Linked DNA regions of Homo sapiens. The protein of the gene in region 2 purifies or fractionates together with the protein of the main gene of each other region. This does not show direct contact. Each region holds a gene or a part of one and is shown on either strand. Other genes may lie near its edges. The genes, in order: SLC37A3, CD276, MVP, ECI1 and TSPAN15.

Region 1 (4,697 bases), on a different chromosome or scaffold from region 2:
AAAAAATATGGCTGGGCCGGGCTCGGTGGCTCACACCTGTAATCCCAGCTCTTTGGGAGGCTGAGGCAGGTGGATCACAAGGTCAGGAGATGGAGACCATCCTGGCTAACACAGTGAAACCCTGTCTCTACTAAAAATACAAAAAAATTAGCCGGGCGTGGTGGCGGGCACCTGTAGTCCCAGCTACTCAGGAGGCTGAGGCAGGAGAATGGTGTGAACCTGGGAGGCGGAGCTTGCAGTGAGCCGAGATTGCGCCACTGCACTCCAGCCTGGGTGACAGAGCGAGACTCTGTCTCAAAAAAAAATAGGTCTGACTCCCTGAAAAGGGGTCCTCCATAACTTCCTTTTAGGAATAAACTGTCTGTTAAATCACCATGATGACCAGTGGGGACAGGAGACCACAAATCAGACAGCAAAACATGAAAAAAGGAAAAACTGTCAAAGCCATCGGCTATCCCTTACAAAAACAAGTTGTGAATGCTATTTTTGATTTTTCTTTTTAATTTGAAAGATAATGAATTAAGAACTATGCCTTGCTGGGCATGGTGGCTCATGCCTATAATCCCAGCACTTTGGGAGACCAAGGCTGGGGGACTGCTTGAGGCCAGGGGTTCAAAACCAGCCTGGGCAACACAGTGCCCTTATCTCTATAAAAGATAAATTAGCCGGGCATGGTAGCACGTGCCTATATTCCCAGCTACTTGGGAGGCTGAGGTAGGAGGATGGCTTGAGCCCAGGAGGTTGAGGCTGTGGTGAACCGTATCGTGCTGCTTGAACCCAGGAGGCTGAGGCTACAGTGAGCTGTATTGTGCCACTGCACTCTAGCCTGGGCAACAGAGCAAGACCGTGTCTCAAAAACCAAAAAAACTGTGCCTTACAGTATATTGAGGCCAGTAGGTGGGCACAGTGGCTCACGCCTGTAATCCCAGCACTCTGGGAGGCCGAGGTGGGCAAATTGCCTGAGCTCAGGAGTTTGAGACCAGCCTGGGCAATACAGTGAAATGCCATCTCTACAAAAAATACAAAAAAATTAGCTGGGTGTGGTGGTGCATGACTGTAGCCCCAGGTACTTAGGGAGGATCGCTTGAGCCCAGGAGGTTGTGGCTCCAGTGAGCCAAGATCGTGCCACTCCAGCGTGGGCGACAGAGCAGTACCCCCATCTCCAAAAAAAAAAAAAAAGAAAAAAAAAAGTGGCTAGTAAATATTCACTAAAATAAAATTTAGCAGTTATGGTTTGCTAATAGGACACAATCTTTAAAAAGCAGGGATATGAATCTTTCAAGCAACAATGTCACATACAGCACCATTCTGAGTTGTAGGGGCTATTGGACATCTGGTGTGTCCTTATCAGATAGCAGGCAGCTGGACAATTTCAACTTCAGAGGATACAGAATATGGTGAGGTCTAACGGTGGCAACCTCACCTTTGGCTCTGGATTTAAGAATACGGGCAGCCAAGTTCAAATACAGTAATAGCAGATTGCCTAGCACAGACTGTGTGCTTTCACAAGCTCACGGCAGTTGAGTCTCACCACAATTCTAAATGTTAACATTATTGAAGGTTATTAAGATCTGGCACAGCCATGTAAGTAATACCCACTAAAATACATTCTGCTCCTCTGCCTTACTTCCTTGTTCATACTTATTACCTCCTTGTTGATACTTCTAGCTACAGCAAAAAAAAAAAAAACCACTATTAAAATCTTTGTTTATAATGAAACAACTGTAAAACATTCACAAAAATTAATCCCTGCTGTTACGTCTACCTCTATGATCTGACGACCTACACACTAAGGTGTATTTCCCCTTTATCCTCAGCAGATATGTTCCATGACCCCCGTGGATACCTGAAACCACAGACAGTACCAAACTCTATACATACTATGTTTTTTTCTATACATACATACCCACGATCAAGTTTAATTTATAAGTTGGGCACAGAAATTAACAATAACGACAAAATAGAAAATAATAACAATATACTGTAACATAAGTTATATGAATGGTCTCTCTGAAAATATCTTATTGTACGGTATTAAGAGTAACTGAAACTTCGAAAAGTGAAACCACAGATAAGTGGGGGACTGGTGTATTCTTCCTTATTAGGCTGGGGAAGGTGGGGAAGGTGGGAGGTAGATACAATGAACACGTTCATATTCTAACTTGGATCTCTGACATACAATTAGCTTTAGAGCTAAGATATCACTGAGAAAGCCGTATGAAAGGATTGCATTTAAAGAGATTCCCATGTGCTTCCCGAGACAAAAGAACTGATCCATCAACAAAGGACTAAGAAAAAAGAGTCCAATAAATCACAGCGCTGCCTTAGGCTAGGTCTTCCTTTCTATGGACCTCTTGTTTTTTCTTTTCTTTTCTTTTCTTTTTTTTTTTTTTTTGAGTTTGGCTGTTTACTAGTAGGACAGTTTAGGGAAAATGGCTGTAGAATAAGTAATAAAACTTTAAATGAGGCCAGATTTCACAACCCAGTAAAAGATCACTAGTGACTAACTCTTTATTATGGAAAAGATGTATCACCGGCATACCTATGATCCCTCCAACGTCGTACCAAATGGACAGCTTGTCGGCTTCCGCCTCCTTCCAGCCGAAGTTGTTACTCAGATAAAAGGGGAGCCAGAAGAAGAAGGAGTAATTCACTAACTTCAAGCAGGCGTAGGCCAGTGAGTACTACAAGAAAAGCATTCAACTATCAGCGAGGGACAAATAGCACAGCACGACTACCATTTTTAATGTCATTTAAAAGCAAAACAAAATAAAGGAAGTTAGGATGAACAGAACCTGATTTTACAGTTAAACATCTCTACAAACTCCCACATGCCTGACTTCAGCTAGTCTCCCTCTGCTCTTCATCCCTGTTAACTTCTAGACAGGCATGTACAGCAGGCCTTTGGAATAAAAAACACCTATGGCTACTTCTTAGCTGTGTCCAGTTTCTCCTCCTATCAGTTCTCTGGTAGAAGCAAGCCAGTGTTTTGAACCTATAAGGCAGAGCACATACCCATATTTCTTTATTCACACAAAGAGGAATGGTATTCATGCCACTAACCAGCGTTAACCATAGGCAAAGAAGTCCAGGAAGCATCACGGCCTTTACTGGGAGCAGCCAAACGGGGTTGGTTATTCTACTCCTTGCCAAGGCAACACTGTGAACAATGGACAGCAAAGGGACTACACTACAGTTCCACGGTCTAAGAAAAGCAGCAGCATGATAATTCCTTTCACACTAGTTTTCAAAAGCTCCACATTCCCTGGTCTGGTGGCAAAGAAGAGAGTCTCTCTGGCGAGTCAAAAATGAAAGAACATGTCATCATCGGCCTCGTGGCTCTCCCTTGAGGGGAAAAAAATGCTGCAGCTGCATGAAGATGGTGGTGGGGCTGAGACTCCTATATTCAACACATTACTACCAGGAAATCCTGACATTCAGCATCAAAGGAAAAAGGGGGGGGGGACAGAGGGGCTGACTTCAAAGGGTGTCTGGCTAGTATATTCTTTTCCCTGGAGCTGCCAGTTATTCCCTAGGTATCACTTGTTTTAAAACAGCTTCCCTGGCAGGCAACAGCCACCCCCTAGAGAGCCAAATCCCAATCACGAGTGCATTCTGACCAGACAGCCTGCTACAAAGACAAAGGAATTAAGTTAACTAGATTTCCTTTACATCCCTGCCCATGTCAGAGAACAATAGCTTGTGAAGAACAAAGGAACAGCAAAAGAGGTCCATATTTAGTCACGACAAAGTTCTTTCTCAAAAATTAAACTATTACCAGCAGAGTACTTTAAAAACCAGTTAAAAGATAATAATCAATAGCATAAGAACAGGTCTAAAGCAACCTGCATTTCTCTTATATCATATATCATCACTGGGTTAAAGAATTGTGGAAAATTACATTTTAATTCATACTTAACTTTGTTGGAAATGTTAGTTCTCTCAGCTTGGAGGCACTGACAGAAGGGGATTGACAGGCATGTATTAAGATGGCCTACAGATCACTCTACCTGAGGGATCACATTCATAAAGCACCATTGACAAATGAAATAACAACAGGTGCTTGTTCAAAACACAACAGCCCAATGTTACAGGCCCCAGGGAAGAGTGGAATAATTTCTATTCCATGGGAAGGGGAACTGAGACACACGGACGGGTTGCGTGACTCACCCCAGGTGTCACAGAAAGTTAGTGGGTAAGCTGGAAACATAACCTAGGCCTCTTAACTTCCACTCCAGTGCTAGAGTGCCCGAAACATCAAGACAGAAAAACTGCAGCAGAAGGGATTTAGTGTAGACGTTAGAAGGCTTTCCTGACTGCACAGGCTGTGGAAAACACTGGAATGCATTACCAAGAAAGACTGTGGAGTGCTCTCTTCTGGACCCTTTAAAAGGGGGCAAGCCAGGCGCGGTGGCTCACGCCTGTAATCCCAGCATTCTGGGAGGCCAAAGTGGGCAGACCATGAGATCAAGAGATGGAGACCATCCCGGCTAACACAGTGAAACCCTGTCTCTACTAAAAATACAAAAAATTAGCCAAGCATGGTGGCATGCACCTGTAATCCCAGCTACTCGGGAGGCTGAGGCAGGAGAATCGCTTGAACCCGGGAGGCAGAGGTTGCAGTGAGCCGAGACTGCGCCACTGCACTCCAGCCTGGGTGACAGAGCGACACTCCGTCCCAAAATCATAAATAAATA
Region 2 (5,281 bases):
TAAGGTGTGTGGAGCAGGCATTCATTCTCTGGACCACAAAGAGAAAGAAAGGGAGAAAGGGGGCAGCTGGCTGGGAGCACTGGTCAGAACTGGAGGGTGGAGGGGGAACTCCTGGAAGCCCCAGCATGATAAAGTCCAGGGCTCTGGAAGAGAAGAACTCTCAGCAAAGGCCCTGACTATGCTGTGAAGGCCACTAGTCACTGGGTCACCCAGGTCAGGCCTGCCCCTTCTCTGGTTCCCCAGATGAGTCTTCCCTGACTTACTAAGGAGACCCTTGGCACATCTTACCGGGCTCCAGAAAGAGGGGTAAAACCTGTGCCTACCTCCAGAGCAGCAGAAAAAGCCAGTTCTGGAAGCAGACAACAGCCCAGCTCCACCATTTGCCGGCTGTGTGTCTTTGGGCATGTGACTTACCCTTTCTGGGCCTCAGTTTCCCCAACTGTACAATGGTGTTAATGATACCCTACCTCATAGGATTACTATGAGGATTACATGAGATAATGTCTATTTAGCCTCCAGCACAACCCTACCCACTCCCAAACCTGAAAACCCAATGCTCCTATCTGGCACACTGCAAGGGCGGTAGAACTGGGGGTGGCAGGCAAGGGTTGCATAACTGTACACGTGGCCCCCTTCCAGGTGTGGGGTCCATTCTGAGCCAACAAGACCAAAGGCAATTTCTCAAAAATCATGTGGACCAGTCCTCACCCCTCTCCCCCTCCCCTAGGCCCTGGGTGTGCCCTCCCCCTTTTGCTGGTGGACTTCCCTAACACTCCTGCCCTGGGGATGTGGGAAAAGGACAATGAGAAGTCGCCACCCACTCAGAGGATAAGCTCATGGGCAGTAACGTCATCCTCCTTGCCATTTTTCCTCTTTCCCTGACCCTATGACTCAGATCCACAGCTTAACAGCCCCCATGTGGTCATAATCTCAGAGGCTGCTTGGATTTGGTCATTTTTCTGCACAGACCCCAAACCCCGTATGTGCAACCAAGTACCATCCAGCCACTTGTTCTACAACATTTTCTAGGAGTCTCTTTAGGTGCTGTGGAATTCCAACTCACAGCTCTCTTATCACACTGCATCTCTGACTCCAAACAGCATTGTCCAGCTCCTTGTCAAACTCAAATCCTACTCCAAAGAACAAAGATTTACCCCTCCAGAGAAAGCCAAAGTTTAATGATGGAATTCTCACAGGAAGTTTCAGAAGTCAACCTAATAAGGACACAGACACCCCAGAGGACTACTTTGAAGGGACCACACTTCTATAACTGTCCTTTCCATAAATATTAAAGCACCGAAGCCAGCTGTCAGGTATATGAACATGAGACATTCAGCCAACCCTCCATCGGGTGGTGCCTGGACAGAGCTGAAGAGGGGACAGGAAGGAAAACAGGGTCCTCAGATTCCAACACCCCTTCTCACCTGAGACTTGCATTAACACAGGCTCCTTACCTCTGACAAGCTCATGTCTCACAGCACAGGAGTCTAGAGTAAGCTGGAAAGCTTACTGCAGGCAGGAGAAACCACCAGTAATGCCATAAGGACATGGAAGAACTCCAAAGGTCAGTCATGGGACCCTGACTGCATCACTGAGGCCACTTAATGCAGGAACGAAGCTCTCTCCCGCCAGCGTCCCCTTGCCATACAACCCCTCAGAACAAAAACTGAGGTCCACAGGGCTGACCCAAAGTCATGAAGGAAAATTTCATTCACATCAGGATACTCCAGTAAGCTGACGGTGACGTATGTAAATTTCCACGGTCAACAGTTACCCTAAGTGTTAGTGCTTAATCTCAAGAACTCCAGATATCAGGAAAATGTACTCACCCAAAATACTCCCTTGAAATGAGCCACTTCATACCCTACAGCCCCATAGCCCTCCATCCTGCCCTGCACTCAGATCAGCTCAACCCATCGGACAGGTTTAGACTTCAAGTTTAGACTTCAGTTCCCCTCAGCCTCAAACTGTCCCACCTATTTGCAGTCCCCCACACTACAAGGAAGGCTGCACAGCATCAGATTTCCTAGGGACTTCTGGGAGGCCAGAGGGAACTAGAGGAGGCCGCACTAAATAAAGAACTCTCTTAAAGACAAAGCAGCTTCATTACTTTCTAATATAGAAACTAACTGCTGAAGACATGCTTATAAGAAAAGGACCCCGGGCTTTAATGAAGAGATCAGACTCATTTACAATTATCCACATCCAATTTGAAGGTAAATCGTTTTTCTAAATTAAGACAACTAACACCCCCCCACCCGCCACACACACACACACACACACACACACACACACACACACACAAATCTTTTTTGCTTTACTATTTGCTTAATGTTTTCCCTCAGTGATAGATCCCATATCTGAGTCATCTATCACGCTTTTCTCATTAGAGCAGGTTTGGCTTAGAAATAAATCCCCTGCCTTAGGCTGCCAAACCTGCCAATTCGCTAGCTAAACGGTCGCAGGGAGGGCCCTGGGCGCTGGAATTCAATCCCCTCCCTTCTAGTGTGCCCCCACTCGGGGTCCCCACCTCCCTCCACCGTCGCCCGCATCTCCTCTCCATCCCACCTCACCCCCCACCTCCCTGAGGCTTCCCAAGCCCAAACTGCCCATCCCAATTCCCTCCCCACCCCCAACACCTATTCACCCCGTGGCCCCTGCCAGCCGTCTCTACCTGTCCTTCCCGGAATCTGACCCCTCATGCTGCCCACGGCTGCCTGTGGAAGTGCACCAGTCGCCCACACCTTCGCCCTGCTGGGCCCTGCAGAGTGGACACGCCTAACCACTCGCCTTCCCTCCCCGCCGCTCCCCTCCCGGAGCTGGGCGTTTTCCTCTGCAGGACCCGAGACCCCGCTAACCTCCCAGCGCCGGCCGGTGGCTTCGTTAAGCTTCAACACGGGACAGATCTGCCCCCATGCCCGCTCCAGACCCGGGGCCTGCAAAAGCGCATTCACCCACCCGGCCCGGTCCGCAGCTTCCGGGGTCTGCAGGTCCGACGGCGCCCGGGCCCCTCTCAACCCGAGGAAAGGGGGGCGGGGTAGGATCCGGGAGCCCCCAGCTCTCCGCGGGCCCCACAGCCCAGGGCAGGAGGGGCGCCCGCGGTTCCCGGGACTCCTGTGCGAGGGGGGCCGCCCGGACCTGGGGGAGGGCAGGGGAGCAGGAGCCCGGAGGGAAGGCGCCCTGCTCAGCTCCTGCAGCCCTGAGCGGGAACGTGCGGACCTCCGCGGGATCCAGGCCCGGCCCGCAGCAGACAAAGGCCGCCCCACCCCGCGCCGCCCGCGCCACGCCAGCACTCACCGCGCCGCGCCGACTCTGGGACTCAGGGACGCGGCCCAGCCTGGCTCAGTCGCCGCCGCAGCGAGGCCCGGCCCGAATGGGGGCCGGGGGCGGCCCGGGGAGTCCGAGGGGCGGGGCGGGCCGCGCCGGAGAATCCGCCTGAGGCCCGGAAAGGCGGCTCCGGTGCGTCCCTGAGGCCGGATTGGCCCCGCGGTGGCGGCTGCTGACCGAGGCCTGAGCCAGCCCGCTGGGCAGAGCACACGGCCTGGCCCCCGCCCCCGCCCCGCCCCGCCCCCAGGCCTGACCCTGGCGGGGAAAACCCTCGGCTCCCGGAGCAGGGCGCTGCCCATCCCCCACCCCGTTCCCACACTTCCAAGAGCCGAATCTTCCTTTCTGCGAGAGGGGATAGGTGACTGACTGGTCATCGACTGGCGGCAGAACAGGGCTGGAATCCTGCTGTCCAACCCCAGTCTTGGGTTCTTCCTCCACACCATGCTGGCACCACAGCCCAGAAAGGGTTAACTCGACTGCGAGGAATTAAGAGCTGCAAGGAGCTCTCTATAAATACAGTGTCGTGGGCGCCTGAGCCAACCGCAGGACAATTTCCACTGAGCTGGTTTTCCTCTTTTCCTTCCACCCACGGCCATCCGACCAGCCCTGCCCCCAGCCCCACCCCAGACTGCTGGCCGGACTTGGCTCCAACAGGCCTGACACCTAGTGGCCTTGGGCTCTGTCCTTACAGGGCCCCGCTCCAGCCTGGGAGGAGATGGGGGTCGGGCCTGTCCAGATTTTGCTGTGGTGCAGCCCATCCCTGCACCTGTTCTTGGATCTGTTCTTCCTCACAGGGACAGTGACAGCTAAAACGTAGGGAGACTTTTGTGGGCCAGAGTTAGGTTAGGAGCTTTCCATGCTGGGCCTCTTTAGTTCCTCCAAACAGCCCCGCCGGCTAGATATTATTATTCCCATTTCACAGATGAGAAAACCAAGGCTCAAAGGGATGAAGGGACTCCAACCTTGTACTGCTGCCAGGCTCACCACCAGTGCCAGTGGCAGTACTGGGCAGGGCTTGGGAAATGAGTATGAAAACATGTGCGTCTCTCTGCATGTGTTGCCACTGTTGTAAGCTCTTTACCATTTTATCTCATTTAATCTTCACAACAACTCATTGAGGTGAATACCATTATTCTCATTTTTACAGATCGGAAATAAGGAAATTAAGATACAAAGAGATTAAGTAACTTGGGGACACATAGCTATGAAGGGAGGAACCGGGATTTGCCCTCTGAATTTAAGTGTGCGTGTGGTGTATGGGTAGGGGTGGTGGTGCATGGGTGTGTATATTTGTGGGGGGTTTTTGTCTTTTTTTTTTTTTTGAGACAGAGTCTGGCTCTGGAGTGCAGTGGCTCAATCTCGGCTCACTGCAACCTCCGCCTCCTGAGTTCAAGCGATTCTCCTGCCTCAGCCTCCAGAGTAGCTGGGATTACAGGTGCGCACCACTATTTTGGCCAGGATGGTCTCGATCTCTTGACCTTGTGATCCACCCGCCTTGGCCTCCAAAAGGGCTGGGATTACAAACGTGAGCCACCGCGCCCGGCCGGGTGTGTATATTTGTGAACACATTCAAGCAACTCTGTATTTGAGTCTACGTGCATATGTGTCTTTGAATCACACAGCAGCTGTGTCTGTGTAATTGCTGACTGCTCCTAGGGATGACAGCAGAGAGGCCCAGCTGTCTTGTCCCTGACCACCTCCAGGAACTCTGGACCATTCCACGCTGCTCCCCACTGCCCTGCCAGGCCCTGACCAGCCTCGTCCAGCCTGGGTCTGGCCTTACAGGTCTCAGGATGAGTAGCCTCCAGTTGGCCCAGCAACCTGGGGAAGTAGCATCACATGGAGAGGTGTCCTTGGGCTGAGGGAGCTAGGAGCCCTGCTGCAGGACCCTGGAGGTGGCATTGAACAGATCTAGAGAAACTTACTTTCCTTCCCTTCACAAAGAGTCAGTCCT
Region 3 (4,697 bases), on a different chromosome or scaffold from region 2:
CATGCAAGATGGGAGGCTGCAGGAGCCACATCTGATACGTGCTTTTTTTTTTTTTTTTCTTTTGAGACAGGGTCAGTCTCCCAGGCCTGTTGCCCAGGCTGGAGTGCAGTGGCGCAATCATGGCTCACTGCAGCCTCAAACTCCTGGCTTCAAGTGATCTTCCTGCCTCAGCCTCTCACAGTGCTGGGATTACGGGCATGAGCCACCGCGCCCAGCCTGATTCACATTTTAAGTGGGTCACCTGATCTGTTGGGTAGGGAATAGATCTTTGAGGGTAGGGATGGCAGCAGGCAGTCCACAAGGGATGCCAGGTTATCCAGTTCCCAGCAGTGGCCTGCCATGGGCATTATAGGCAGCCGAGCTCCCAGCCTCACTTACTTGGCCGCCGCTTCCTGGGAGTTGGTGGTGATCTCGATGGCCAGCTGGACGCTGCGTTGCAGGGCGTCCCGGGTCCTCTGATCCACAGGCTCCACTGACTGCACGTCCACACTGCTGACCACCAGCCCGTTTTGGGGGAAGACAGCCTGGTCCCGGGGCCTGGGCAGGGCCATGCCATCGGGGCCCTTCGCTTCCGAGGTCTCAAAGCCAAAGACAGCAGTGCGAATGATGCGGGCTGAGTTCTTATGGAAGTCATCGAAAGTGACAGAGGCCACGGCCCCCCGCACCCGGGATGCGATGGCTTTGCAGGCATCACCTACAAAGTCTGGCACTGAAAAGAGCTTGGCCGTCTCTTGGGGGTCCTTCCGGTCATTCACCTCAAAGTGCCTGTGAACAAACAGGCCCAGAATGGGGAAGCTGCTTTCACCCAGGAATCTCTCTTTAGAAGAGACAAGGTCTTGCCATGTTGCCCAGGCTGGTCTTGAACTCCTGGGCTCAGGCAACCCCCCAACCTCAGCCTCCCAAAGTGCTGGGACTACATGTGTGATCACGCCCAGCCAGCAACTCTCTCCGAGAAGAACTTCAACACCCATCCTGTGTGGCCGGGCAGGGTCTCTCGCAATAGAGAATGCTAATGTATGCCTGGTAAGGTCCTAAAAACTTAACACACGTTCTCCTTTAATCCCACTCAGCCACCCTATGAGATGGCAATGATCACCACCCCCATTTTACAGATGAGGAAGTAGAGGTCCAGGGAAGTCAAGTGGCTGGCCCAAGACTTGCCATATAACATGTGACAAGCCAGAAAGCTGAACCAGGCAGCTGCTTCTGGGGCCTGTGCTCTTAACTATGATGTTGTAGTGCCTGGGAATATGTCGGCAGCCCTGGGAATATGTCGGCAGCTGTCTGCCGCCATCAGGGCACTGGCTGCTCTCAGCTAAGAGGTGAGGGACATGCTTGGGAGTATTGAATATTCTTTTTGGAGACAGTCTTGCTCCGTCGCCCAGGCTGGAGTGCAGTGGCTCGATCTGGGTTCACTGCAACCTCCGCCTCCCGGATTCAAGAGATTCTCCTGCCTCAGCCTCTTGAGTAGCTGGGACTACAAGCTGGGACTACAGGTGCCCACAACCAGGCCTGGCTAATTTTTGTATTTTTAGTAGAGACAGGGATTCACCATGTTGGCCAGGCTGGTCTCAAACTCCTGACCTCAAGTGATCTGCCTGCCTCAGTCTCCCAAAGTGCTGTGATTACAGGCATGAGCCACCACGCCTGACCCTCCCTCCCTCCCTTCCTCCCTTCCTCCCTCCCTCCCTCCCTCCCTCCCTCCCTCCCTTCCTCCCTTCCTCCCTTCCTCCCTTCCTCCCTTCCTCCCTTCCTCCGAGACAGGGTCTCTGTGGGTCTCTGTTGTCCAGGCTGGAGTGTGGTGGCACAATCATAGCTTGCTGCAGCCTCAAATTCCTGGGCTCAGGCAATTTTCCCACCTCAGCCTTCCAAGTAGTTGGGTCTATAGACATGTACCACCATGCCCAGCTAGTTTATAAATTTTTTTTTTTTGAAACAGAGTCTTGTTATGTTGCCCAGCCTGGTCTCAAACTCCTGGCCTCAAGCAATCCTCCTGCCACAGCCTCCCAAAGTGCTGGGATCACAGGTGTGAGCCACAGTACCCAGTCATGAACACTGTTTCTGTACATGACTTATCTCACCCAATCCTAATAGCTGCTATTGAGCTCTGACCAATAGAGGCACTGTTCTAACACTCATTGCATCTTTTCAATGGCCTTGTGAAGGAGAAAATGCTGTCTTCCTCATGTTACAGATGGGGAAACTGAGGAAAGCACCCTGTCCCTTCCCCAGGTCCACAGGCTGCAAACAGCAGGGCGGGGGCGCAGGCCAGGGCAGTCAGTTTCTGAACTTGAGTTCTCACCGCCCCCTTGCACTGCCCACTCCCGCCAGCTGTGTCCCATGCATCTTTTAACAGCCCGACAGTTACGCATTTGGCTGCACGCTCACTGGGAGCTTAGTTGGGGTAGTGTCCTGCTACTGGATCCCTGAGTCCTGACCCCAGGAGGTGAGCCCACGCCTTCCCTGGATTTGCGTGAACTCCTAGGTTCCCTCTTGACCTCAGCACTGAATGAGGTGTCCTGCCTTCATGAGGAGCCCAGCACCAGCACTTGAGCAGGACCCTCCTTTTCTTGGGGTTCCTAGGCTGCACCCAGCAGGAACCCTCACCCACTGCTTGCCACCCGGTTTGTTTTTTTTGTTTTGAAACAGGGTTGACCGGGTGCAGTGGCTCATGCCTGTAATCCCAGCACTTTGGGAAGCCGAGGCAGGCGGATCACCTGAGGTCAGGAGTTCGAGACCAGCCTGACCAACATGGAGAAACCCCATCTCTACTAAAAATACAAAACTAGCTGGGCATGGTGGCACATGCCTGTAATCCTAGCCACTTGGGAGGTTGAGGCAGGAGACTCGCTTGAATCCGGGAGGTGGGGGTTGCAGTGAGCCAAGATCGCGCCATTGCACTCCAGCCTGGGCAACAAGAGTGAAACTCGGTCTCAAAAAAAACCAAAAAACCAAAAAACCAAAAAACTAAAAAAACAAAAAACAAAGAAACAGGGTCTTGCTCTGTCACCCAGGCTGGAGTATAGTGGGGCCATCAAGGCTCACTGCAGCCTGGACCTCCTAGGCTCAAGTGATCCTCCCACCTCAGCCTCCCAAAGTGCTGGGATTCCAGGAATGCACCCCCATGCCCTGTCCCCATTTTTACCAGTTGTAGGCCAGCTGCAGTTGCAGCCTGGCATGATCCGCCGTTTCGATGGTGATGACGTCTGTGAAGAAGTCAGGCCCCAGCAGCAGGCAGAGCGCACGGCGGGCATGGGGACGCTTGGGCCGCCCAGCTGAGAGGGACAACACTGTGAACTGCTCCTCAGGACCCAGCGACACCAGCTCAGGCCCGAAGACCACGCTGCAGAGACAGCCGAGGGTCAGAGCCAGACCCATGGAGAGCCACCCCCTACACCCTGCGCTGCCAGCACTCACCGGGCTCGCTTCTCTCGGTAGTCGTACACCTGCACCGCAGCGTTGTGGGGCACGCGGTAGCTGACCACACGGGTCTTGTTCCGGGGCGCCAAGGGCTGGAGGCTCTTAGCTGTGTCCTTCTCACCCCTGTCTGCCAGAGGGTCCTGCCCCTTGTTCAGCAGCTCCTCCACCCCGGGAGGCAGCTCTTTCTCCCACAGGACTTCGTCCTGGGTCAGCATGTAGGTGCTTCCAATCACAGCGCGCACCTTGGGACGAGGACAGGGAGGGAAGCTGCCCGTAAGGGTGGAAGGGAGGAAGATCCGCCCAGCTGTCCCAAAGCAGAGCCCATCCAGGGAAGGCGCGCCACGAGGTTAAACACCTTCTCTACGGGGAGGCCAGGCTCCACCCCGGGTTTGCCATCTGCTGGCCCTGTCATCGTGGGCTAACTACCTCACCCCTTGGGCTTCAGTTTCCTCATGTGTCAAGTGGACTTGACGGTGGCTACCTTGCAGGGTCTAGGGGTGAATGACATCTTCACATGTCTAGCTCAAACAGCTCTTGGCATAGAGAAGGTGCTCAATGTTATTTCTAGAATCTTCCTTCATGGGGCAGTTTGGAGGGCACCTCGGGGATGGTGAAGTAGGCTGTGTACACGGATGCTCCCTCGGATTCCAAGCTGGACTTCCAGCTTGGATTCTTAGAGAAGGTTGGAGATGTGGCCCGAGGTCAAATCAAGGTCAAGGTTTTAGGTGAAGCAGAAAAAAATGAAAGATTCCACCGGGATATGGGCATGAGGGAGGAGGTCCTTCCTGTTCCCTGGCCACCCCATCAGACCTTTATGCTGGAAACCAGGTCTGCTGTGGGAAAGGGTCCCTGTCCTAAACCCCCACTTGTCCTCTCAGTGGACATGCTAATATTTTTTTTTGACAGAGTCTCACTCTGTCACCCTGGCTGAAGTGCAGTGGTGTGATCTCGGCTCACTGCAACCTCCGCTTCCCAGTTCAAGCAATTCTCCTGTCTCAGCCTCCCAAGTATCTGGGACTACTCAGACCACCACCACGCCTGACTAATGTTTGTACTTTTAGTAGAGACAGGGTTTCCCATGTTGGCCAGGCTAGTCTTGAACTCCTGACCTCAGGTGATCCGCCCGCCTCGGCCTCCCAAAGTGCTGAGATTACAGATGTGAGCTACCGCACCTGGTTGGTTCTAACATTTCAAATGAGACATTTAAGGCAGAAGGATGGCAAACACTCCACGTAGTGCCCTCCCCCAACCAGACAGCCCACCTGATATGGCTCTCC
Region 4 (5,487 bases), on a different chromosome or scaffold from region 2:
TCTCTTTCTCTCTCTATCATTTTTTTCTGAGACAGAGTCTCGCTCGTCGCCCAGGCTGGAGTGCAGTGGCGCGATCTCAGCTCACTACAACGTCCACCTCCCGGGTTCAAGCGATTCTCCTGCCTCAGCCTCCTGAGTAGCTGGGACTACAGGTATGCGCCACTATGCCCAGCTAATTTTTGTATTTTTAGTAGAGATGGGGTTTCACCATGTTGGTTGGCCAGGATGGTCTCGATCTCTTGACTTCGTGAACACCTCGCCTCGGCCTCCCAAAGTGCTGGGATTACAGGTGTGAGCCACCATGCCCGGCCAAATTAACCATTTTCTATCTTTATTTTTTTTTTGAGACAAGAGCCTCGCTCTGTTGCCCAGGCTGGAGTGCAGCAGCGCTATCTCGGCTCACTGCAACCTCTGCCTCCTGGGTTCAAGCCATTCTTCTGCCTCAGCCTCCTGAGAAGCTGGGATTACAGGACACACCACCATGCCTGGCTAATTTTTGCATTTTTAGTAGAGACGGGGTTTCACCAGGTTGGCCAGGCTGGTCATGAACTTCTGACCTCAGGTGATCCTCCTGCCTCGGCCTCCCAAAGTGATGTGATTATAGGTATGAGCCACTGTGCCCAGCCTAAATTAGCCATTTTTAAGTAAACAAGTCAGGCACTTACACAATTCAGTATACTGACTGTGTTGTGCAACTATCGCCGCTGCCTAGTTCCAGAACCTTTTCATTGTCCCAAAAGGAATCCCTGTCCCCATGAGCAGTTGCTCCTCATCCCACCCCTAGCCCCTGGAAGCCGCCAGTCTGCGTTCTGTGTCTGCGGTTTTCCTGCTCCAGCCATATTCCATATCACTGGGATACCGCCGGGCTTTGTTGTCGGCTTTGTCCACTTAGTATCATGTGTTCAAGGTTCATCCATGTGGTTGTCATTCCTATTTATTTATTTATTTATTTTATTTAATTAATTAATTTATTTTTGAGACAGATTCTTGCTCTGTTGCCCAGGCTGGAGTGCAGTGGCGCGATCTCGGCTTACTGCAAGCTCCACCTCCGGGGTTCACACCATTCTCCTGCCTCAGCCTCCCAAGTAGCTGGGACTACAGGTGCCCGCCACCACGCCCGGCTAATTTTTTTTTGTATTTTTTAGTAGAGATGGGGTTTCACCGTGTTAGCCAGAATGGTCTCAATCTCCTGACCTCGTGATCCGCGCACCCTGGCCTCCCAAAGTGCTGGGATTACAGGTGGGAGCCACCGGGCCCGGACTCAAAAACATGTTATCTTAAGGTATTGGAATGGGTAGTGTGGACTACACATTGTGAATATACTTACGGCCACGGGGTTGTACATTGCAAAATGGCTAGAATGGTAAATGTGAGGCATATTTTAAAGATTTTTATGTACACACACACACACATTACCTCCGGTAAAAAAGGAAAAGTGTTCGTACAATGACAATTTTTTTACTCGAGTGCCTCCCCACTTTACCATATAAAAAGACAACGTAAGCCGGGCGCGGTGGCTCACGCCTGTAATCCCAGCACTTTGGGAGGCCGAGGCGGGTGGATCACGAGGTCAGGAGATCAAGACCATCCTGGCTAACATGGTGAAACCCCGTCTCCACTAAAAATACCAAAAAAAAAAAATTAGCCGGGCGTGGTGGCGGGCGCCTGTAGTCCCAGCTACTTGGGCGGCTGAGGTAGAAGAATGGTGTGAACCCGGGAGGCGGAGCTTGCAGTGAGCGGAGATCGTGCCACTGCACTCCAGCCTGGCGACAGAGCAAGACTCCGTCTCAAAAAAAAAAAAAAAAAAAAAAAAAAAAAGACAAAGTAGAGTTTGGAGTCAGAAAGTCAGGCCTGACTGAGATTGCAGTGAGCCGGAACCGCGCCATTGCACGCCAGCCTGGGTGACAGAGGGAGCCTCTGTCTCAAAAAAAAAAAAATAATAATTTTTTTTTTTGCATTTTGTTGAGATATATTCAAATATGCTACAGAAATGATCCCTTCAGAAACTCAGTTTTTACAAAAATTAGTGGGCATAGTGGTGGGTCCCTGTAATCCCAGCTATTTGGGAGGCTGAGGAGGGAGAATCGCTTGAACCCAGGAGGCACAGGTTGCAGTGATCGGAGATTGCGCCACTGCACTCCAGTCTGGCGACTGGAGAGCAAGACTACATCTCCAAAAAAAAAAAAAAAAAAAAAAAAAGTCAGTTTGAAGTTGGTCTTAGTTTGTCCCTCTCAAGTTTGTAGAGAGAGCCCAGGCAGCTCCCTCAGCCCAGACAGAGAGGACGGAACCAAGTTCAGAGGCACCAGGAGCCTGGAGTCCTGAAGCTGTGCAAAGTTGGGCACAGCCCTGAGTCTGGGGGGTTGGGGAGGGCAGGGGCTGTGACTTACTTGCGGAGGGGGAGGGCCTCCTCTCAGGAGCCACAGCAGGGACTGCTGCACCGGGAGGTCCAGGTCAGCATGTCCTGGAAGCAGAACTGCTGGCGCCTAGGCGTGCCCTCTCGGTGCCCTCAGCTCGGCCTCCTGTCTGGAGGGAGCGCACAGGCTTCTCTTCCAAAAGTACTTTTTCTATCCTTTCCAGTGGGTTTTACCAAGGGTTCTGACGGGCGGGTAGGTACGAGGTTCTGTGCCACATGGGAGTGTTAACAAACGTAATTTTATTCCAAAAGATTCCAATTCTTTTCCACTTCCAATTGAATAACTTAGATAACAGCTCATATCCCCGCCAACTTTATTTTTATTTATTTATTTATTTTGAGACGGAATCTTGCTCTGTGGCCCAAGCTGGAGTGCAGTGGCACAATCTCGGCTCACTGCAGCCTCCACCTCCCAGATTCCAGCGATTCTTCTGCCTCAGCCTCCCAGGCATAGGCACGCACCACCACGCCCAGCTAATTTTTTTCTTTTGTATTTTTCAGTACAGATAGGGTTTCATCATGTTGGCCAGGCTGATCTCGAACTCCTGACCTCAGGTGATCCGCCCGCCTCTGCCTCTTAAAGTGCTAGGATTACAGGCGTGAGCCACCGCGCCCGGCCTCCGCCAACTTTAAAAACAGAAACTTTTATCTCATGACGAACGAACCCAGGTAGAGCGGCAAGGTTCTGTTTCGAAACTTGGGTTCTAAACACAAACCGAGCGTCGACAGACGTGGTTCTCCGACAGCACCCCGCGAGCGCGGACCCCCGCGGGTCCTGACCCCACGCCCGCCCTCCCTCGGCGCCGCCCGCTCACCTGCGCCCGCGTCCGGCTCCACCAGCACCCGCTGGCTCCCGAAGCGCCGCGCGCCGTCTCCGCCGCCGGCCGCCCGCTCCGTCCGCCCGAGGGCCGCGCCCGGGAGCCGGGCCCCTGCGAAGGCAGCGTGGGGGAGCCCGTTAGTTCCCGGTCCTGGCCCCGGCCCCGGCCCGATCCCTGCCCACCCCGGGTTTCGCACCCGCGCGGAGCAGAACGCGCGCCGGGACTCGCACAGAAGCCACCAGCGCCATCTTGACCGCAACGCGCGGGATAAAGGTCGCGGGCTGAGCTCGCCTCCTGGGGAGGGGGCGGAGCCCCCCCAACTAGGTCCCGCCCCGTTCCCAGAGGCTGGTCAACGCCTCCACCTACCGGCCGAAACAGCCGCTCGCCGCCCTCCGGCTTCACCCCGGGCAGCCGCGCGCTTCCGGGGCAGGCACCTGGATCTGGGCCAGGGCTGGCCTACAAGGAGGCGCAGGCCCACTGCTGAAGCAGCCACGACCAGCTCAGCGCCAGGGCAGGCTCTTCTACAGCGCGGGACACTGTAGGCAAGAGGCTGCCGGTGTTCGTGACCGCGAGCTCTCGGCCGGGCCCAGCTACTGCAGTATCGGCGCTGGAAAGGCGATCAAAGCACGGAACCCCTCCCGAGGGGGCCGTCAGGGAGGCCAGGGGCTGCCTGGGGTGAGCCCGGCCTCCTGCCCCTTTGGGAACAGGATCAGAGCTGCAGGTTTAGTCACCGAAATGGGGGTGGGGGCAGCAGAACCCAGCGGTAAGAACAGGCCACCCGCCTTGCTCAGCACAAGGGCAAGTGCACAAAGGCCGGACCGCAGTGGCACCTTTTTATTTGCAGAGAAATGCCGAAAGATAAGAATACAGTCTGTTCCCGCTGGGCCGTAAGCGGCAGCTCGGGAGTGGGCCTTTGTACTGTCTGGTGTGGGGTTTTGGTCAGACCACTGGGAGCACTGGGCAGTAAGGTCCCAGCTGTGTTGGGTGGTCTCAACTTTTGTTCTCATCTTAAGCATTTCCAATTCTTCCTTGTGTCCCAAACCAATTTTTGAGGTGGAAAAATGGCCACTTAACGGAGGAGGAAGCAAGCCTGGCATGGTGACACACACCTGTAACCCCAGTGACTCAGGACCAGCTGGGTAACATAGCAACAACTTGTTGCTACAAAAAATTCTTAAAAATTAGCTCCTGCTGCTGGGCGCGGTGGCTCATGCCTGTAATCCCAGCACTTTGGGGGCCAAGGTGGGCAAATCATGAGGTCAGGAGTTTGAGACCAGCCGGGCCAATATGATGAAACGCCGTCTCTACTAGAAATACAAAAAATTAGCTGGGCATGGTGGCAGGTGCCTGTAATTCCAGCTACTCAGGAGGCTGAGGCAGGAAAATCACTTGAACCCAGGAGGCAGAGGTTGTAGTGAGCCAATATTGCGCCACTGCACTCCAACCCAGGCAACAGAGACTGTCTCAAAAAAAAAATTAAAAAATTAAAAAAAAATTAGCCCCTGCTACTCTGGACACTGAAGAAGGAGTTGGAGGCTGTAATGAGCTATGATCGCACCATGGTACATACTCCAGCCTGGGTGACAGAGCGAGAGTCTGTCTGAAAACACACACACATTCCAAGGTGGCGATAAAACCATCTCCTTCTATTTGTCCACCCTAGGAGCAACCTGGTCCCCACAGCACACAAACCCTAGGTTCTCCTGGCTGAAAGCATCGGAGGTGCCACTGCGGATGGTGAGGAACAGAAAGTTACTAGGGGCGAGGGGACAAGTGAGAAGGCAGTGAACCCAGAACTAGATTTGCATTCCGATCTTGGGTTTATTCAACACAATTCTTCCACTCTACACAACAAAGTACAAACACAATGTCATCTAAAATGCTACAAAGGTATAAAACTCAAAAGAGAAATTTTATAGTACTGACTGTACAATGAAAGCAAAAAAGAAAAAAAATAAAAGCAATGTACATGTTGCCAAGATAACCTGAAAGACCACCATGAACGGCAGGCACAACCATGGCTGCGTGATGACTCCGCAGAGCTGGCTCTCCACTCACTCGCCAATTTCAGAGTACAGTGGTGGGGTGCGGTGTGTGCATCGGTGCACGGACAGACAGAACCACGAGCAGCAACTACCATGGGTGAGAGGATCTTTGAGGGGGTGTGACCCTTGAGGTCAGAAGAGGCCTCGAGAGGCCAGGCCTAACAGGGTTGGCAGCTGCACTAAAGCCTGGGGCAGCTCCCTTTCCAAAAGG
Region 5 (3,548 bases), on a different chromosome or scaffold from region 2:
CACCCCAGCTCTGCTGCACACTATCTAGGGGATCTTGGCAAGTCACTGAAGCTTGCTGCTCCTCAGTTTCCTCCTCTGTGAAATAGGCATTATAATAGTGCCTCCCTCACAAAAAGAAGTGAAGCAGCAGTGCCTGCGCAGCACTTGGAAGAGCTTCGCCACGACTGCTATTGCCATTTGCCCCTCCTTCCAGCCATGCAGCCCTCCCCAGGCAAGTCCTGGACTTCTATGAAAAAAGCCTCTTCGCTCTTCCCCTCTGCACCTTCTCTGCCCTTCTGCAATCACCAAGTCACACTTTCTCTGAACCCACGGCCTGCCCACCTGGGGAAGCAGGATGCCCAGGAGGATGCCCGCCATGATGGTGTAGTTGTCCATGAACCAGATGATCACGGCGTTGGTGCAGCCCCGCACGTAGATGACATCCTGCACACTGAAACGCTGCATGGGAAGGAGCTGGGTCAGCCCAGCAGAGGACCTCGGCTGGCAGGAGCCACAGCCCCGACTCTGCCATGTACACAAGGTCCAGGCTAGTCCCTCAACCGCTGTGATCCTCAGTTTCCCATATGCAGCATGAGAAGGTGACCCTAGATTCTGATTCTTAATGGACAGTACTGTTCTCTAGAGAGGACTGGGGACACCGTGGTGGCACTTTTGGTTGCCCCAGCAAACGAGGTTGGCGGCTGAGGGACTGCAGAGCTCAGGGTAATCCTACTCCACAAACAACTGCCCTGCCTGTGTGCTTCTCAGATGTCCCTGCATGAAAAGCCTCACGGATGTTTTCCATACATGAAAAGCCTATTTATAATTATCCAAGCCAATAGCCCCACTCCAGGTACATATAAAAAACAAAGCAGAGTTGGGCATGGTGGCCAGTGCCTGCAGTCCCAGCTACTATGGAGGCTCAGTTGGGAGGAGTGCCTAAGCCTAGGAGTTTGAGGCCAGCCTAGGCAACAGTGAGACCCTGTCTGTCTCTTAAGGGAAAAAAAAAAAAAAAGCATTTCTGCATTGGTTTTAATATACAAAGAATTTTCCAGAAGTACTACTAGGTAAATTAAGGAATGATTACACATTATTTAATTCAGAACTTTATCAAGAATTGTTCACCGTTTTTAAAAACCATGCCAGTGGCAAAAATGATGCCCATGGTATGTGAGTCGCCAACACAATGCCCAGTATCAGCTGCCCTGTAGCTACTACAGCCTCAGGGATGCCTCACATCAGTGCAGACACCTGACTACATTGTGTCTTCTGCACCCCCCACTGCCTAAGCACTTACATGATGAACTATGTTAAACAGCTGTAAATTGCTGTATTTCATTTCTACTTTATCTCAGATCATTATGTTAATTGTATTGGAATTGGGCATGTAGGTAGGTTATCTGTGAATTTCACTTGGGGATAATAAATAGGACATTACCACTGTTTGTTATAAAAATGGCCATTGGTTCTGAGGGGCTGAGAACCACTGCTGGTCTATGGCTCTCAAGCATGTGTCAGAATCACCCACTAGCCCCATACCAAGAATGTGCATTTCTCACATTCCTAGGGGATGCTGTTGCTGCTGGACTGGGGACCCCACTTTGAAAGCCACTGCTCTGCATGTCAGGTCACTATTCCTTTTAGGTCCCTTCTCAGCACCACCCCTGCTTCTCTCCTAGACCAGGGGTGTTGCCCAGGAAGCTGACCCAGGAGCAACCCCCAGAGGGGGTTACCATCCTCTAGGACTCCTGGGTCCCAGGTGGCCCCAGGGGCAGAGGCAAGCTGGTGCTGAGCATGGCTGGGCACACAGCACGCTGCGGGTACCAGGAAGCGCCGTGGTGGCTTCATGTGGAACAGCCCACAGTAGGTGCTCGGCAAACCCTGACAGGCGGCATCTCCCAGCCTGGGGGAATTCTTGGTTCCCTGAGCCCTTCTGTGCTGGGGTGGAAAACCACAGCAGTCCTGGCTCTGGGTCACAGCCAGGAATGTGGGAAAATCTCAGTGGCCAGGACCCCGACCTCAATAAACCCCTCCGATCACCCCAGGGTGGACCAGGAAGAGCAACATTTCCAGGGAAAGGCATTTCAAAGACATTACCTCCTTGTCGATAGTTTTGTAGCCACACATGGTGTTGACAACTTCTGTCTGAAATGGAAATGTATAATAGCTAATATTTATAATGGTTCTAACTCAAAAAGGCACTATTATCCTACCCATTTTACAGATGAAAACCGAAGCACAGAGTTGCACCGTCCAGCAGGGATGGAGCTGAGATTCCGACCCAGGCAGTCTGGCTTGAGTCTCCATCATAACCACCTCCTCCTCCAAGAAATGCCCCGTGAAAAAACTGTAGGAATGCAGGTTCCATGACTTTTACCTGGGAGAACCACCCCTCCACTAGCAGCAGATCAGGACCCCAGAGAAAGGTGTGCTGCCCACGCTCCCGGGCTATGACCGCCCCAGAGCACCGCTTTGCTCACACCGTCTCAGAGGTCGGGGTGGGGCTGTTCCTGCGCCGCTGGCTCTTGGGGAGGAAAACTTCAGACTACAGCTGGCACAGGGTCAGCTGTGGTTTACCTGAGGTCCAGGGCAGGGCCCCTGGCCATGCTTCCGTTCCATAGACCACTGCTCCACCAGCGGAGAGTGCTGCCAAAACTTCCTTCTTGGGAAGAGAGGTGCTCTCCAGAACTCCCGACTACTGATTAATTTAGGCATAGGGAAACCTGTGGTCACGCCCTAGACCTCATCAAACCCCTCCCCAGGCAGGCCCTAACTCACAGGCTGCCGCGGGCACTTCCCATCACCACCTGTGCCCCGCAGGGTCTCCTTCTCCAACCACCAGGGAAGAGAGTGAGACTTCCTGGTCCAGCCCATGACCGTCCCCCCCAGCCCCGCTGCTCTACATGTAAGTGAACGCTGCCGTGAGTGCTGCAGGCGCCAGTGATGACTCAGGAGGGCAACAGCAGAGCCCCCAGCGTGCCCTCTGGTGTCACATTTCCTGGGTCCAGATCTTGCTCTGCCACTTAGGAGCAGAGCCCAACCTTAGGTGGGCTGCTAAGGAACTGGCACGCAGAGGTACTCAATACATATTTGTTAACTGAGAAAATGAATGAATGAATAGGTTGTGATGATCACAGAACCCACCTCCTAGGGCTGTTTTGGACATAAAGTGAGATACACATATAAAGTGCTTATCACGGGGCTGGGCACATGGAGGAGCACAAGAATGCTGGCTGGCGTGATTTGTTCACAATTCCAGCCCCTGCAAAGGAAAGGGAGGGTGTCTTCTCTCCTTCCGAGAGAGGGTTGGGCCTCAGATGTCATCTAGGTCATTCTAAATGTCAGGGCTTGATGTGCAGGCAAGACGACCTCCCTCGGTTTAGCTGGTTCTCCAGGTAGCCTCAGTCCCAGCCATGCCCAGTGCCCACTGGGCATTAGTCAGCCAGTGTTTTTGGCCCTTCCAGGCCATAAACACAACCCCTATGGAGAGGGTCAGGCCTGGAGAGCAGGTGCACGGGCACATGATGGGAGTGAGTGCTTTCCATCTCATTGGTTCATTCATTTGTTCA

What was found.
Region 1: the proteins of CD276 (region 2) and SLC37A3 fractionate together in Homo sapiens (co-fractionation; one large-scale study listed by BioGRID). This does not show direct contact.
Region 3: the proteins of CD276 (region 2) and MVP purify together in Homo sapiens (affinity purification with western blotting; one study listed by BioGRID). This does not show direct contact.
Region 4: the proteins of CD276 (region 2) and ECI1 fractionate together in Homo sapiens (co-fractionation; one large-scale study listed by BioGRID). This does not show direct contact.
Region 5: the proteins of CD276 (region 2) and TSPAN15 purify together in Homo sapiens (co-immunoprecipitation; one large-scale study listed by IntAct). This does not show direct contact.

The regions. Positions count from the first base shown.
Region 1 is NC_000007.14:140,346,084-140,350,780, forward strand, and holds part of SLC37A3 (sugar phosphate exchanger 3), read right to left. Parts: intron 2,685-4,697; coding exon 2,543-2,684; intron 1-2,542. UniProt on the Homo sapiens protein: Unlike the other SLC37 members, lacks glucose-6-phosphate antiporter activity.
Region 2 is NC_000015.10:73,682,477-73,687,757, reverse strand, and holds the start of CD276 (CD276 antigen isoform a precursor), read right to left. Parts: upstream 3,376-5,281; 5' UTR 3,298-3,375; exon of another isoform or gene 2,859-3,297; intron 1,540-2,858; exon of another isoform or gene 1-1,539. UniProt on the Homo sapiens protein: May participate in the regulation of T-cell-mediated immune response. May play a protective role in tumor cells by inhibiting natural-killer mediated cell lysis as well as a role of marker for detection of neuroblastoma cells.
Region 3 is NC_000016.10:29,840,561-29,845,257, reverse strand, and holds part of MVP (major vault protein), read right to left. Parts: intron 3,663-4,697; coding exon 3,418-3,662; intron 3,344-3,417; coding exon 3,146-3,343; intron 766-3,145; coding exon 379-765; intron 1-378. UniProt on the Homo sapiens protein: Required for normal vault structure. Vaults are multi-subunit structures that may act as scaffolds for proteins involved in signal transduction. Vaults may also play a role in nucleo-cytoplasmic transport.
Region 4 is NC_000016.10:2,248,088-2,253,574, forward strand, and holds the start of ECI1 (enoyl-CoA delta isomerase 1, mitochondrial isoform 1 precursor), read right to left. Parts: upstream 3,501-5,487; 5' UTR 3,480-3,500; coding exon 3,428-3,479; intron 3,343-3,427; coding exon 3,229-3,342; intron 1-3,228. UniProt on the Homo sapiens protein: Key enzyme of fatty acid beta-oxidation. Able to isomerize both 3-cis (3Z) and 3-trans (3E) double bonds into the 2-trans (2E) form in a range of enoyl-CoA species, with a preference for (3Z)-enoyl-CoAs over (3E)-enoyl-CoAs.
Region 5 is NC_000010.11:69,503,014-69,506,561, reverse strand, and holds part of TSPAN15 (tetraspanin-15), read right to left. Parts: intron 2,125-3,548; coding exon 2,077-2,124; intron 439-2,076; coding exon 322-438; intron 1-321. UniProt on the Homo sapiens protein: Part of TspanC8 subgroup, composed of 6 members that interact with the transmembrane metalloprotease ADAM10.